2 separate regions of the Homo sapiens genome follow, and region 2 is linked to region 1. Evidence: fine-mapped expression QTL. A gene starts in region 1. The other region holds a variant in brackets. All regions are shown on one strand. Distances are between the middles of the regions.

Region 1 (4,531 bases):
TATAAAAGAAAAAGGCTAACAACGAAAAAAGGTTCCAGAAGCAGTGAGAGGAGACAGTAACAACAGACAGACAAAAAGGGAGGAATCCTTCCTACTCAAATTAAAGGATGGGTGAAAATACAGAAACACAAGGAGGAAACTGTGTGTTAGGGTTGGGGAGCAAAGGGTGCATATCAAATGGCTTCAAAGTTTTCATAAAGTAGGGGGTCTGGAATCTACAAAGAGGTAGGGGTTAGAGGACCAAAGAGCAAAACTGATTTTTAGTAAAATGGCAGGATGTGTTAGAGGATATATAAGGAGAGATGAGGGCAAAAGAGCATCCTCGAGCAACTAAAACATCCTGTTACACGTAACAGGTTCATATAGATGTTAATATATATTTAGTCCAATTACACTACATTTCCCTTACATAGCACAATAAGTAATTTGTGTTTAAAAAAATGATCTGTCGGCCGGAGGCGGTGGCTCACGCCTGTAATCCCAGTACTCTGGGAGGCCGAGGTGGGTGGATCACCTGAGGTCAGGAGTTGGAGACCAGACTGCCCAGCATGGCGAAACCTCGTCTCTACCAAAAAATGCAAAAATTAGCTGGGCGTGCTGGCAGGCGCCTGTAATCCCAGTTACTTGGGAGGCTGAGGCACAAGAATTGTTTAAACCCGGGAGGTGGAGGTTCCAGTGAGTCGAGATCGCGCCACTGCACACTACAGCCTGGGCGACAGAGCAAGACTCTGTCTCAAAAAAAAAAAAAAAAAAAGAAAAGAAAAGAAAAAAGATCTGTCAACCATAAAATGATTTTTTTTTTTTTTTTGAGACGGAGTCTTGCTCTGTCGCTCAGGCTGGAGTGCAATGGTGCGATCTCGGCTCACTGCAACCTTCTCCTCCCGGGTTCAAGCGATTCTCCCGCCTCAGCCTCCCGAGTAGCTGGGATTACAGGCACCGCCATAGTGCCCAGCTAATTGTAGGAACGGGGTTTCACCATGTTGGCTAGGCTGGTCTTGAACTCCCGACCTCAGGCGATCTGCCCGCCTCGGCCCCCCAAAGTGCTGGGATTACAGGCGTGAGCCACCGCGCCAGGCCCGTAAAATGAAATTTTAACCATAGATTCTAAATTGCGTATTCACAGAGTAACTGAGACGATTGCAACTTATTTAAAACTATGTGTAAATCATCTTGAAACAAGTTAATGAGAAAGATCACATGATTAAAACAATAAAAAATGTTGCTTGAGGAATAATGCACAGACGGAATTTAGAAAAAAGGAAAGCCAGAACAACTGCAGACGGTTCTTTTCGCTTTTGTATAGGACTGAGCTCCTCTTCCGGACAAAAACCAGGAATAAGGGAGGTCTTCTTAGTAAAAGCAAAAGTAAATTGTCTTAAAAAAAAAAAAAAGGTTGCAAGTGATTTGGTCTTTCCAGAAAAGTCAATACCATGTCTAACAGTGGTCTCTACTACAATAACCTGAAGGTGCTAATGACCCTCACAGTAAAATAAGCTAGCAAATGGCCACACCGTAGAGCGCCTACATTTACTGCCAATTAAGTCCAACTGCCGCTGTCTTAATATTTTCGCTTTTTAATGAATCCTCTCTCTAGGTATTCCGATCCATCCACCGGTAACACGCTGATACTTCGAAATACTGCAGGCAGGAGTGGACGGGGGAGAAGCCCCCCCCCTCCCCGGGCTTCTTTCGTGTTCGGGCCTCTGCTGCCGCGATCCACGGAAGCAAGAATGAGTTCCATCGCTTGGGGCTCACCAGCTAGAGGGCTGGCGGAGGCTGCGAGGGGCAGAAGTAGCAGCAGGCTACTGGGTGGGCAAGCGGTGTGTACCGCAGCTGTGGAGGACATCGACGCGGAACGCCCGGATTGAGCTCAGAACACACCGGCCCCGCCCGGGACTCATTCTACAAGCTTCTTCGGAAGAGGCGCCCGCCCGGGAGGAAGGGTCTAACCCCGGGCTCCACCGGGAGGAGATAAACTACTCACTGTCAATGTCCTCGATGAGGCTGGCGGTGCCAGGCATATAGTTCATTTTGAACTGAAATAATGCTGCAATGCACAGCGGCGGGAGGCCAGCGCGTCCAAAACCTCTTCCCTCCTACCGCAGTCGCCGCCTCGGTGGGACCAAGCCCGGAATCCCGACCGAGACCAGCACTTCTGCCCCGGCTTTCAGCCGCCGGGGGCTGCCGGAAGCTCCTCCATATTACCCTTACCCACTTCCTGTAACACGTGTGGGCCCCCAGGAAGAGGCGGGGCAGCCGTACCGTTGGGGGACACCCTTTCCCTGTTCCTGTTAAGTAGGTAAGAGGAAACTCCATTGGATAAATGGCGAGGAAACGTATACTCCCTCTTAAGGAACACGGTGTCTTCCTTCGTCTCCGGGTTCCCGAGACCCCAGAGTCACTGACCTCCGTCCCTCAGCTTTCGGGGTTCGGCAGCAGAAGGGGCGGGCCCGGGCCTGGGATTGGCTGGCGTCGTCCGACCCCCTTCGCTGCTCTCCATTCGCAATCGCCCGCGGGCGCCTGCGCGATGGGTCGGCCGTGGGGAGCGGGGCGGGAAGCGCTTCAGGGCAGCGGATCCCATGTCGGCCCTGAGGCGCTCGGGCTACGGCCCCAGTGACGGTCCGTCCTACGGCCGCTACTACGGGCCTGGGGGTGGAGATGTGCCGGTACACCCACCTCCACCCTTATATCCTCTTCGCCCTGAACCTCCCCAGCCTCCCATTTCCTGGCGGGTGCGCGGGGGCGGCCCGGCGGAGACCACCTGGCTGGGAGAAGGCGGAGGAGGCGATGGCTACTATCCCTCGGGAGGCGCCTGGCCAGAGCCTGGTCGAGCCGGAGGAAGCCACCAGGTAAGCTTTGCACCCTCTGTCCTTGCGGGGAGGTGAGGGCCCTTGGGGCTGGGGTTCGTAAAGGATCGGGTTTCATACTTGTTTTCCTTATGTGGAGGAGGGTGTGTTGCGGGGGGTGTTGGAGAGACCGAGACTAAGATCAGAGGTTGGGGGGACATGCTTGTGTTCCCTTTGCCCCTCCTTTTCTGCTTCGACCCCAAAAAATATGTTTATTACCATTTAAAAAAGAAAGATCCTGCGCGGACTTACTAAGCTTAGCAGCAGGCTGCAGATCTCTCTCCTGGGAGCGGTGCTGGGTAGGGGTGGCACGGATCTACTGCTCCAGCTCTAGCAATTTATCCTGCGTGGCTGGCAGGCCGGCTCTCCCGGGGAAGGGAAGTGGCTGCAGCCCCCGATGCCGCTCAGGGACCCTCCCGAGGGGAAGGAACCTTTGCGAGGAGGAGGGATCTGGGCATTTAGCTGTTTGCCCCTAATGCCTTGCCTGAGATCGAATCATGAATAATCAGTGTTGTAAAGTACCTTTACGCGGATTGACTGATTTAATTTTCACGGCGACTGCAAGGTAAAATGGCATTACAGCGGCCCTTTTTTTTGTTTTCGAATAAGGAACCGGGGCTCTGCGAGGTTAACTCACTTGCCTAATACACTTGGACCTGCAACATTTTATTCTCCGTTTTCCTGCCGGACATATACTTCTGCTTTGTTAATACAGTCTTCTGGGTAGTGGGTTGTCGTTCTGCGGTGGCAGCATACCTCTCTGTTCGTTCAAGAATTATCCTCATTTGTTGAAAATGTAATAGTGAAATTCTCGTACATTGCTGGTGGGGATGTAAAATGGTGGAAAATAGTTTGGTAGTTCCTCAAAACATTAAGCATTAGAATTAGTCTATGACCCAGCAAGCCCACTCCTGGCTATATACCCAAGAAAACTGATAACGTATGTTCACATAAAGCTTGTCCGCCCATGTTCATAGCATCATTATTCATAATCGCCAAAAAGTAGAAATGTCGTTTTTTTTGTTTTTTTTTTTTTTGAGTTGGAGTCTCGCTCTGTTGCCCAGGCTGGAGTGCAGTGGTGCCATCTCGGCTCACTGCAACCTCCGCCTCCCGGTTTAAGCGATTCTCCTGCCTCAGCCTCTCGAGTAGCTAGGATTACAGGCGCCGGCCATCACACCCGGCTAATTTTTGTATTTTTAGTACAGACGGGGTTTCGCCATGTTGGCCAGGATGGTCTTGAACTCCTGACCTCAAGTGATCCCCCTTTCCCCTGCCCCTCGGCCTCCCGAAGTGTTGGGATTACAGGCGTGAGCCACTGCGCTCGGCCCCAAATGTCATTTTATTATTTGAGTTATAAAGTGAGTGAACCTCTTGGAGCCCTGGTTCTTTATTCGAATACAGGAATGTTGTAAGGACATAACGACTGATGCATCGATAAACAAAATATGGTGTTAATATATTCATTCAATGGAGTATTATTTGGCCTTAGAAAGGAATGAACTGCTGATGCATGCTACAATATGAATGAACCTTGAAAACATCACACTACGTGAGCTAAGTCAGTCAGAAAGACTGCATATTGTGTGATTCCATTTATATGAAATGGCCAGAGTAGGTAAATCTAGAGACAGAAAGCTTAATGGTTGCCAGAGGTTGGGGGACTGGCGGTGTAGGTGAGAATATTC
Region 2 (4,000 bases), 170 kb after region 1:
GTTGCAGTGAGCCGAGATCGTGCCACTGTACTCCAGCCTGGGTGACAGAGACTCTGCCTCAAAAAAAAAAGATTAGTAATACACATCAAATCTGTCAGAATTTCAAAGCCTTAATAATATTACTTATATAAATTTCAAAAACATAGAGTAAAATCATAGTCCCTAAAAGAACAAAAAACTGATGTCAACATTAAAGTTGGAAAGAAAATTTTAAAGGTAATAAATTGTGCATTTTTATTTTACTTTCTGAATGACTTAAGTTTGTAACCTTAAAAATAAAAAATGTGGGCCAAGTGCAGTGGCTCACACCTGTAATCCAAGCAGTTTGGGAGGCCAAGGTGGGTGGATCACCCTAAGGTCAGGGGTTCGCGACCAGCCTGGCCAACATAATGAAACCCCATCTCTACTAAAAATACAAAAACTAGCCAGGCGTGGTGGCACACCCCTGTAATCCCAGCTACTGAGGAGGCTGAGGCAGGATAATCGCTTGAATCCTGGAGGCAGAGGTTGCAGTGAGCCGAGACTGCACCACTGCACTCCACCCTGGGCAACAGAGTGAGATTCTGTCTCAAAAATAAACACATAAAATCAAATAAAAAATGTGTACAATAAAGAACATTTTGCATATAAAGAGTTTCTAAGAATTTTAAGGCCTAATACTCTGAGGCTAGAGAACCAAACCTGCTACCTTAGTGTTCACGGGACTGATCCAGCCACTCTGCTTTTTATAAGGGGATATGGCAAACTAAGGGTTAATGAGACTCTGCCTTAGTGGATTAGCCCACTGAAGTGCTGATAGGAGACCAGTGACTGTTTGAATAATAGGGCCTACGCTCACATGCCTGAGGCATTCCACCTGCCAAGGAGGAAGACATGCAGAAACACAGCCACATATTTCTGATTTGGTGGGAGGAAAAACAGCTCATGCAGATTTTTAAAATATACAATTTCAGTAGTGATCTCAGGTCTCCTGCTGCCTAGATGTTTGGACACATTTTCATTGCTGAGAAGATATACTTAGGTTGTTCCAAATAACAGCCACTCTTCAGAAGGCCAAACAGCTTAGAATTAGGGGGAAATACTTACACATCAAGTACTAAGAAAAAAAGTAGCAGGTGAAATCTTAAGGTGTTGTGTTTTTTTATTTGTTTGTTTTTCAGACAGAGTCTCATTCTGTCACCCAGGCTGGAGTGCAGTGGCATGATCTTGGCTCACTGCAATCTCCACCTCCCAGGTTCAAGCAATTCCTGTGCCTCGGCCTCCCGAATAGTTGGGATTACAGGTACCCACCACCACGCCCGGCTAATTTTTAAATATTTTTAGTAGAGATGGGGTTTCACCATGTTGGCCAGGCTGGTCTTGAACTCCTGACCTTAAGTGATCCACCCACCTCAGCCTCCCAAAGGGCTGGTATTACAGATTGAGCCACCATGCCCGGACTTAAACATGGAACTCAACTATATGAGATTTTGTTTGCTCAAAAAAGAACCTATGAACCTATGAGTGAGCTTTTAAGGAACAACAACAACAAAGTAAAGTAAAAGAAAAAATCTATATAAAAGCAAATCCAGCTCCAGGAGATTTAAATCAGACTTTTTTCTCCAGGAATACATTTTTCATTATGTTTCCCTGAGGCATCTGGGGGAGGGAAGCTGTCCAGTGAAGTCAGTGGATGCTTCTTTGGGCTTCCTTTTCACTTCTCAGTTCTCTACAATGCTAAACACCAAGGGCTGGGACCCCTATGGACAACCAGTAGGCATAGGGTATTGACTATTAAAACACTTAAAACAACTGTCCTGAAGGAAGCACTGTAGATGTTGTTCAAGTTAAGGAAATCTAATTTAAAAATATATGCAGTTGTGAAACATTAATTTATACACAT[C/T]TCTAGCTTAGCAAAAGCATGACATTAACGATAGGCAAGAGCTGTGGGAGCTCTGGCTTTGAAGGTCTGTGGTCAGAATGGACTACAACTTCTACAACTGCCCCCGTGTGTGATACAGTTCCAATTAATCAAAATTCAATTAACAAGAACTTACCTCTTTACTTCTTTGAAGGAAGGGAAGAAAGAAGGGGTGAGAGGGAGAGGGAGAGAGAGAGAGGAGAGAGGCAGAGAAGAAGGGAGAGAAGAAGGAAGGAATGGAAGGGGGAAGGGACGAGGGGGTAGGATGGAAAGGGGGAGGAATGGGGCAGAGAGGGGAGCAGGGAGAGGGAGGGAGAGGAAGAGGGGGAGAAGGAGACAGGGAGAGAGGGAGAGAGAGAGAGAACGAACAAGAAAAAAACCTGGATTTCCCCCCAAGACTCGACTTTCAGGCAATGCTCCTAGTAATATTCCAGGCAGTCAATGCCACTTTCTCCAGCTATACTTTTGGTCAAGTTGATATTCCTTTATCCCAAGCTATTGTAAGATCCTAAACAATCAAATAGTAAATTTTGCTCATCATGATTCAATAAAAGGGAAAATGAATTAAAACCCTTAAATTAAAATCTAAACATCTGGGCCAGGCGCAGTGGCTCACGCCTGTAATCCCGGCACTTTGAGAGGCCAAGGCAGGTGGATCACCTGAGGTCGGGAGTTTGAGACCAGCCTGACTAACATGACCCTGTCTCTACTTGAAAAAAAAAAAAAAATTAGCCAGGCGTGGTGGTATGCCTGTAGTCCCCAGCTACTCGGGAGGCTGAGGCAGGAGAATTGCTTGAACCCTGGAGGCGGAGGTTGCGGTGAGCCAAGATTGCACCACTGCACTCCAGCATGGACAATAAGAGTGAAACTCCGTCTCAAAAACAATAAAATAAAATAAAATCTAAACATTCTAATCCTGAGCTATAATAGTTAACTGAAGGTTTAGGTGATATAAAGAACTAGGTATAGCAGACATCTAACAGAGACAGAACTGGTTTTAGAATCTCATTGCAAAATGACTACTAGAAACATCACTGATTACTCTTTATCTCATTACCCAGTTTTATTGTCTTCATAGCATCTAAAGCTATGAGAACTTATGTACACACATATACATATATGTATGCATATGTATGTATATATGTATATATACATATATGTATATACATACCTATGTATTATGTATATATGCATATGTATATGTGTGTACATAAGTTAGCTTTAGATGCTATGAAGACTATGTATATATACATATATAGTATATAGTATATATAGTATATGTATATGTATATATGTATATACACATGTATATAGTATATATAGTATATGTATATATGTATATATATGTATATATAAATATATATTGTATATATGTATATATGTGTATATATATATGTATATGTGTGTGTATTTTCTGGCTCCCCTCACTAGAATATAAGCATCCTGAGAGCAGGCATCTCTACTTTTCATTCATTGTCATACCTTTAAGTCTTAGATCATTGCCTAGCACACAGTAGGAGGAGCATTTCACCAACATTTGTTAATGAATAAATAAGAAAACTATAAAAAGTGAGAAAACATGTTGAAATGTCACACTGGGACTTGTGAGAGTCTAGAAGCATTGTGACCTTTACTCCAGAAAAACATCACATGTGAGTTGTATGAAGTAATAGAAGCCAGCTACCAAGGAAAAGATGAATAGGTAAGAAGTAAACATTTCTTTGAACAGAAAATAAATTAACTTATTCAGGTATAACACATATAAAAGCAGATAGCTGTCATAAAAATAAATATAGTTTTCCCAAGTCAAAGTTTAGAAAACATTTGCAATTTATATTATGAACTCTTCATTTAAGCTAGAATTATGTTACATACTTATTATATTATTGCTAAGCAAATTCACGCTGAAATCTCAGATATTAAAAAATTCAGCAGCATATATCTTAAGTTACCTATAAAGGATGACTTTTATAAAAACTCACCTGAAGTTTTAATCAATATTTATTAATACTAACTCTGATTTTAATAAAAAGATTTCTATTATTTCAGGTTATTTTGTAGCAAACATTAGCAATGAGTGTTAAATCTAAGCTCTACTGG

The links.
Region 2: its variant is fine-mapped to the expression of BAG4 in whole blood (TOPMed, PIP above 0.99).

The regions. Positions count from the first base shown.
Region 1 is chr8:38,174,291-38,178,821 of GRCh38, forward strand. BAG4 (BAG cochaperone 4) reads left to right here and starts at 2,565. Exons shown (of 5, transcript NM_004874.4): 1 at 2,565-2,849. The coding sequence starts at 2,580. LSM1 (LSM1 homolog, mRNA degradation associated) reads right to left here and starts at 2,203. Exons shown (of 4, transcript NM_014462.3): 1 at 1,985-2,203. The coding sequence starts at 2,030. RefSeq lists enhancers at 1,171-2,028, 1,608-1,697, 2,029-2,886, 2,108-2,257, 3,168-3,507.
Region 2 is chr8:38,343,133-38,347,132 of GRCh38, forward strand. The region is part of intron 2 of NSD3 (nuclear receptor binding SET domain protein 3); the gene reads right to left. Among named protein-coding and RNA genes, the nearest start is that of NSD3, 37 kb to the right of the region's middle. The variant C/T (reference allele first, on the strand shown) is at 1,883.